2 linked regions of the Homo sapiens genome follow. The protein of the gene in region 1 purifies or fractionates together with the protein of each later gene. This does not show direct contact. Each region holds a gene or a part of one and is shown on either strand. Other genes may lie near its edges.

Region 1 (3,988 bases):
GACACTCGGGACACACCAAGGGGCGCATCTTCTTGCTGCCCTGTGGACAAGTCAGTCAGGCAGGGAAGGACCCGTCCACACTCCAGGAAGCTAACTGCCAACCATCATGCTGCAGGAATGTGGCCAGACCCGCCTAGGCAGACACAGTGTTCCACAGTCAGCACACCGTTGGGTGGGGCCCTACTTCCTGGGCGAGCACTGCCCAGCGGGGCTGACTTTCTGCATCAGGAGACGGCTCAGTCCTCTCCGGCCTCCCTGGGGGAGTGCCCAGACCAGGAACTGCTTGAGGCAGAGGTGGCACTGTTCTGTGGCCAGGAACACAAATTCCTTAGTCCAACAGATGTGTGTCCAGAAACCATGATGATCAGAAGATCATGGCTGGACAATCAGGTCCAGCAGAAGCTGGTCACAAGGGAGGACAGACGCAGCAGAAGTACACACAGCACAAGACCCAGGTGGGCAGGGGTTGGGGGAGACAGTGGCAGGCCACCTGCACCTCCAGCCCCTCTTCTCCCTGCAGGGCTGAGTCAGGGCCAAAGATGGCCACCTCCCTGCCTGGTCCTGGTGGGGGTCACGTGAGGAAAAGGTGACTCAGACTCTGACACCTGCTGAGGGAGCAGCCAGGCAGGAGGAGTACCGGTGTGCCGAGCGCCCAGGGTCAGCCATACCTGCCTCACCTGTGGTCTCCCCAGCAGGCCCCACCTGTGGCCCAGGCCTTCTGCCTGCCACCCAGAGCAGCAGGATTCCTCTCACAATCCTTGGCTCAGCCGCAGCCCCACGTGGCTCTCCACATGCATCCTGCCTACCCCTCGGCAGCTGCCAGGCCCAGTCCCCCATCCCTGAGGGTGGCCCTTGCTTCCTGCTGCACGCCCTCTACCCCCGGGCGCTGCCAGGGCCTGTCCTCAGCCTCCATTCCAGCCCAGCCTTGCCACCCCAACCTCGGTCCATTTTTTGTTTTTTTGTTGTTGTTGTTGTTGTTGTTGTTTTTGAGACACGGTCTCACTCCCGCCGCCCAGGCTAGTGTGCAGTGGCACGATCTCGGCTCACTGCAGCCTTAACCTCCTGTGTTCAAGCGATCCACCCATCTCAGCCCCGCAAGTAGCTAGGACTACAGGCACGTGCCACCACACCTGGGTTTTGTTTTTTGTTTTTTGTTTTTCTTATAGAGACAGGGTTTTGCCATGCTGTCCAGGCTGGTCTCAAACTCCTAAGCTCAAGCAATCCACCTGCCTCAGCCTCCCAAAGTGTTGGGATTACAGGCATGAGCCACGGTACCCAGCTCTGCTCTGATTTTGAATCCATGCTCTGTTAGCCAGGCCCTCCTCGGGCCAGACCCCATACTGTGTTCATGCTGAAAATCCGGAACACCAGTAATCCTCCTGTGGACCAGCAGACAGCCCAACAGAAGCACATGGGCATGAGCAGGCACAGAGGAGGGTGGGCGTGGCTGAAGCAAGGAGAGGAGGCCTGGGGACTGGAAATGCTGCCGTGCTTTTAACACTCCTGACAGACTGCACATCCCCACCTTGAATCCCGCAAATGCTGGGACCCAGCTGGGTGCAGTGGCTCACACCTGTAATCCCAGCACTGTGGGAGGCCAAGGCGGGTGGATCACTTGAGGTCAGGAGTTCAAGACCAGCCTGGCTGACATGGTGAAACCCCATCTCTACTAAAAATACAAAAAAGGCCGGGCACGGTGGCTCATGCCTGTAATCCCAGCACTTCGGGAGGCCAAGGCAGGCAGATCACCTGAGGTCAGGAGTTCCAGACCAGCCTGACCGACATGGAGAAACCCCATCTCTACTAGAAATACGAAATTAGCTGGGCATGGTGGCACATGCCTGTAATCCCAGCTACCAGGGAGGCTGAGGCAGGAGAATCGCTTGAACCTGGGAGGCGGAGGTTGCAGTGAGCCGAGATCGCGCCACTGCACTCCAGCCTGAGCAACAAGAGTGAAACTCCATCTCAAAAAAAAAATACAAAAATTAGCCAGGCATGGTGGCACACGCCTGTAATCCCAGCTACTTGGGAGGCTGAGGCATGAGGATCACTTAAACCCAGGAGGCAGAGGTTGCAGTGAGCTGAGATCGCACAAATGCACTTTAGCCTGGGTGACAGAGCGAGACTTCATCTCAAAAAGAAAAAAAAAAGAAAAATGCTGGAACCCACAGAGGATGCCGGAAAGGGGGCAGTGGTCCCCAGACTAACCCGTATGCCAGCCAAGCACCCTCAAGTGATCCCAGCTGGTGGCACAGAACTGAAGATTAACCCTGCCCTCACTGTCCAGATTCCTAACCCACAACGCTGTGAGATATAATAAAATGGTTGTGTTAACTGTTTTAAGAATGGTGTCTGACTTGAGGTGACCGCGACTTTTACGTAGCAGTAGGTAACTGGAACAGATGTCCAACCTCACTAGAAATTACAGAAAACCCGGCCGGGCGCAGTGGCTCAGCCTGTAATCCCAGCACTGTGGGAGGCCGAGGCGGGCAGATCACGAGGTCAGGAGATCGAGATCATCCTGGCTGACACGGTGAAACCCCCGTCTCTACTAAAAATACAAAAAATTAGCCGGGTGTGGTGGCGGGCGCCTGTAGTCCCAGCTACTCAGGAGGCTGAGGCAGGAGAATGGCGTGAACCCGGAAGGTGGAGCTTGCAGGGAAAGCCCAAATGACCTACCATTTCAATCCATCAGATTGACAAATATTAAATGTCTCGACACAGCTGGGCGCAGTGGCTCACGCCTGTAATCCCAACACTTTGGGGGGCCAAGGCGAGCGGATTGCTTGAGGCCAGAAGTGTGACAGCAGCCTAGGTAACACGGTGAAACCCCATCTCTACCAAAACTACCAAAGATTAGCTGGGTGTGGTGGCGCGTGCCCCTGGTCCCAGTCACTCAGGAGGCTGTGGTGGGAGCCCCGGAGGAAGGAGTTGCAGTGAGCCAAGATTGTACCACTGCACTCCAGTCTGGGTGACAAAGTGAGACCTCATCTCAAATAAAATCAATGTCTTGGGGCCAGGCACAGTGGCTCACGCCTGTAATCCCAGCACTTTAAGAGGCTGAGGCGGGCGGATCACCTGAGGTTCGGAGTTCCAGGCCCGCCTGACCAACACGGAGAAACCCCGTCTCTACTAAAAATACAAAATTAGCCAGGCCTGGTGGCGCGTGCCTGTAGTCCCAGCTACTCGGGAGTCTGAGGCAGAAGAATCACTTGAACCAGGGAGGCAGAGGTTGCGGTGAGCAGCTGAGATTGCACCACTGCACTCCAGCCTGGGTAACAAGAGCAACGTAAATAAATAAATAAATAAATAAATGTCTCAACACACGTTGGAGGGAGGTGGAACACAAACACCCCTTATTCCAGTCAAACTGCAGACAAGTACGAGGTTCTGGCAAAGAGTGGGACAGGTCTACTGTAATTTTACCTGTGCATACCAGGAGACCCAGAATTCCGCTTAGAATCTCATGGTATTTAACCGGGAGCCTCACACGCCACTGCTCCTACTAGCAAAGCATCGCGAAAACCGTCATGGGACATTGACTCCACAAAAACAAACAGTATGCAACTGACCCTTGGGTCATCCTAAGGGTCCAGGTTCTGTGATCTTCCCAACGCCCATGCAGATGGCCCCGTTTTGCACATACACCAAGGCTCTTTGAGATGACTCTGCCAGAGTAAGCAGCCTCCAACCACTGTCCAAAGTGAAACCTGTCCCGAGCTGCCCCACACACTCCTCAGTAAGAACACGGGAGGCAAGGGGCTCCCGCACAGCTGCCAGCTGCTTCCCTGCCAAAACACCTGGAGCTGCTCCTCTGCCTCTCAGCAACTGCTTCAGGTCAGGCTGGGTGAATTTCCCAGGGAGCCCGTTTTCACTGGCCAGGCCAATGGCAGCGGCCATGTTTCTGCCTTTTCAAATCATCGAATCAGGCAGGACCACAGGATGCAGTTCTGCCCACGGAGAAGCCAGAGCAATACATGGGGTCCAT
Region 2 (3,988 bases), on another chromosome or scaffold:
AACGGGAGTGAGACCTTGTCCTCCCTCTCCCCGCCAAAATCAAGACACCATCATAAAGAGCAGCTTGATATTATGTTCTTAGAAGCATGGTTCAGGCTGGGTGTGGTGGCTCACTCCTGTAATCCTAGCACTTTGGGAGGCCAGCCTGGGGGAGAGAGTGAGACTCTGTCTCAAAAAAAAAAAAAAAAAAAAAAAAAAGCATGGTTCACAAGCAGCTGCTGAAGCGTACCCCATGAGACTGGTTTCAAGTGGCTCACAGGAGCTGCATGTGACTCGATCACATGCTAAAGGCTCATCTCCATAAAGAGTGGCCAAGCTGGGCGCAGTGCCTCACGCCTGTAATCCCAGCACTTTGGGAGGCTGAGGCGGGCAGATCACCTGAGGTCGGGAGTTCGAGACCAGCCTGACCAACATGGTGAAACCCCATCTCTACTAAAAAAATACAAAAATTAGTCAGGCGTGGTGGCACACACCTGTAGTCCCAGCTACACGGGAGGCTGAGGCAGGAGAATTACTTGAACCTGGGAGGCAGAGGTTGCAGTGAGCCGAGATTGCACCACTGCACTCCGGCCTGGGCGACAGGGCGAGACTCCATCTCATAAAAAAAAAAAGAGCGGCCAACGGGTGCAACCAAGACCTCTATGGTCTTTAGGAGGGAGACATACTCGGGCAGAGAACAGGTTTTAGACCTAAAGTGCCCTGGGCGCCTCCTCCCGCCATCTGGTAAGCAGCGACAATCTTCTCATTCTATTGGGACATAGGCCTATTCTGTTTTCTTTGTGGTTTCTTCTTTTCTCCTGTGCAGTTTGGCTGAGTGTGCATTCCCTGCACTGCAAACGGTGTTCCACACACACCTCCAGCTCTAAGGGTAAAGGCATCCTTTTCAAATCACAGACCGACCGACAGAAGCCCACTTGAAACAACCCTCCTTAACAGTTCCAAATACATTACTTGTGAAGTTCTGTTCTCATTGTCCCGTATCCTTTCCTTAACCAGCCGCACAAGGGACGCGATGTTGTAAAACTCCGCTTCCTCCAGCACACCTGGAACAAGGACAAAACTGCAGTCAGATAGGTGCGAGGGTTTGCCAGAAAAACACCAAGGAGAGGATGAAGGTTACATGCTTGCTAAAAACTGCTTATTTATTTATTTACTTATTTTTTGAGACGGAGTCTTACTCTGTCGCCCAGGCTGGAGTTCAGTGGTGCGATCTTGGCTCACGGCAACCTCCGCCTCCTGCGTTCAAATGATTCTCTTGCCTCAGTCTCCCAAGTAGCTGGGACTACAGGCACATACCACCACACCCGGCTGTTTCTATTTTTTCCCCCCGCCCGAAACAGAGTTTCATTCTTGTTGCCCAGGTTGGAGTGCAATGGCATGATCTTGGCTCACTGCAAACTCCGCCTGCTGGGTTCAAGAGATTCTGCTGCCTCAGCCTTCCAAGTAGCTGGGATTACAGGCGCTTGCCACCACGCCTGGCTAATTTTTTGTATTTTTAGTAGAGACAGGGTTTCATCATGTTGGTCAGGCTGGTCTTGAACTCCTGACCTCAGGTGATCCATCTGCCTTGGCCTCCCAAAGTTCTGGGATTACAGGCGTAAAGCCACCGCACCCAGCCAATTTTTGTATTTTTCGCAGAGACGGGGTTTTGCCATGTTGGCCAGGCTGGTCTCAAACTCCTAACCTCAAGTGATCCGCCCACCTTGGCCTTCCAAGTGTTGGGATTACAGGCATGAGCCACAGCTCCTGGCCTAAAAACTGCATTATTTAAATGCAAATCCAATCTCTCTCCTTCTGCTAGGAAATATCTCTTTGCTATTTTCGGTAAACCCATGACCTTTTCTCCAACATAAATTAGTCAAACGCCAGGGTATGTTCTGCTCACTCCATTTCAACCCTCCTTTCCCTACCTGGCACCTGCCCATTAGCTGCAGGACACTTTTCCCATATGTCACTTAGTTCCTGGAACTAGTCATGTTGGACACCTCCTGAACTTGATATTTTTGTCCAATCTGCCCTCAAAAGGACTGGGGGTGGGGGTGGAGGTGTGTGTACAAATTTATGTGGGCCAAACTTAATAGGATGCTAATCATTTGAACAATATAAAAGGCAACCATTTAAAGACTTGCATGCTAAATGAACTCAAAGGCCTTAGGGCAACTATGAGACGTGTGATCCTATAGGAATAAATTTGCTATAAAGGCCATTATTAGGACAACTGACAAAACTGCAATATAAGCTGTAGATAAAAGCATCAGTATTAAATTTCCTGAGTTTGATAACTGTACTGTCTGTGGTTACATAAAACAGTATCCTTGTTCTTGGGAAATATATACAAATATTAAGGGGTGAAATCTGCAATCTATTCTCAAATAGTTCAGAAATAACTGTGGTGGGAGAGGCAAGAGGATGGGGGTAGGGAGGGGGAAATAGAGAATGAAGGACAATGCAAATATGATTTAAAAAAAAAAAAGGTCGGGCATGGTGGCTCACGCCTGTAATCGCAGCATTTCGGGAGGCCAAGGCGGGTGGATCACGAGGTCAGGAGTTCAAGACCAGCCTGACCAACATGGTGAAACCCCCGTCTCTACCAAAAATAAAAAAATTAGCCAGGCGTGGTGGCATGCACCTGTAATCCCAGGTACTCAGGAGGCTGAGGCAGGAAAATCGCTTGAACCCGGGAGGTGGATGTCGCAGTGAGCTGTGATAGTGCCATTGCACTCCAGCCTGGGCAACAGAGGGAGACTCTGTCGCCAAAAAAAAAAAAAAAAAAAAAAAAGGTCGGGCGCGGTGGCTCATGTCTGTAATCCCAGTACTTTGGGAGGCTGAGGCAGGCAGATCACAAGGTCAGGAGATCGAGATGAGACCATCCTGGCTAATATGGTGAAACCCTGTCTCTACTAAAAATACAAAAAATTAACTGGGTGTGGTGGTGGGCGCCTATAGTCCCAGCTACTCGGGAGGCTGAGGCAGGAGAATGACGTGAACCTGGGAGGTGGAGCTTGCAGTGAGCCGAGATTGCGCCACTGCACTCCAGCCTGGGCAACAGAGCAAGACTCCGTCTCAAAAAAAAAAAAAAAGCTGGGCATGATGGCTCATGCCTATAATCGCAGCTACTCAGGAGGCTGAGGCAGGAGGAGCATGTGAGGCCAGACATTTGAGACCAGCCTGGGCAAGATAAGATAGACTCTGACTCTTAAAAAAACAACAAAAAGATCTCCCCATACCCCAAATATGACAAAAATAACATTGAAAATTGGTTAATCTGGGATATAGGGAGTTCTCTGTGTTATTCTTGCTCTTTTCTTGCTTATTTTGAAGTTTTAAATTACTTCAAAATAAAGTTTTTTTAATTAAAGGCATTAGAAAAGATACTTAACTAAAAGAGGGTAATTGAATTTTTGTATCACAAAGGATAAATGCTTGAGGGGATGGATACCCCATTCTCCATGATGTGCTTATTTCACACTGCATGCCTATATCCAAACATCTCAGGTCGGGCGCGGAGGCTCAGGCCTGTAATCCCAGCACTCTGGGAGGCTGAGGCAGGTGGATCACTTGAGGTTAGGAGTTCAAGACCAGCCTGGTCAACATGGTGAAACCCTGTCTCTACTAAAAATACAAAAAATTAGTCAAGCATGGTGGTGCACGCCTGTAATCCCAGCTACTTGGGAGGCTGAGGCAGGAGAATCGCTTGAACCCAGGAGGCTGAGGTTGCAGTGAGTCAAGATTGTGCCAGTGCACTCCAGCCTGAGCGAAGAAAAAAAAAAGAAAAATCTCATGTACCCCATAAATATATACACCTACTAGGTACTTACAAAAATTAAAAAAGAAAAATAAATAAGATTAAGATCACCCATGAGTTGGTAATTGTTGAAGCTGGATAGTGGATGCAAGGAATTCACTGTATGTACTATTCCCATTACTTCTGTATGCGTTTGAAATATTGTTTAAAAAGGGACATTTAAAAAAAGAGAGAGAGAGCAAT

Evidence for each region. The genes of interacting proteins can lie anywhere in the genome.
Region 2: the proteins of ARRDC1 (region 1) and KCTD2 purify together in Homo sapiens (affinity purification with mass spectrometry; 4 studies listed by BioGRID and IntAct, with this or other methods). This does not show direct contact.

Annotation. Positions count from the first base shown.
Region 1 is NC_000009.12:137,608,560-137,612,547, reverse strand, and holds part of ARRDC1 (arrestin domain-containing protein 1), read right to left. Parts: intron 126-3,988; exon of another isoform or gene 1-125. UniProt on the Homo sapiens protein: Functions as an adapter recruiting ubiquitin-protein ligases to their specific substrates. Through an ubiquitination-dependent mechanism plays for instance a role in the incorporation of SLC11A2 into extracellular vesicles.
Region 2 is NC_000017.11:75,050,069-75,054,056, reverse strand, and holds part of KCTD2 (BTB/POZ domain-containing protein KCTD2), read right to left. Parts: intron 1,044-3,988; coding exon 952-1,043; intron 1-951.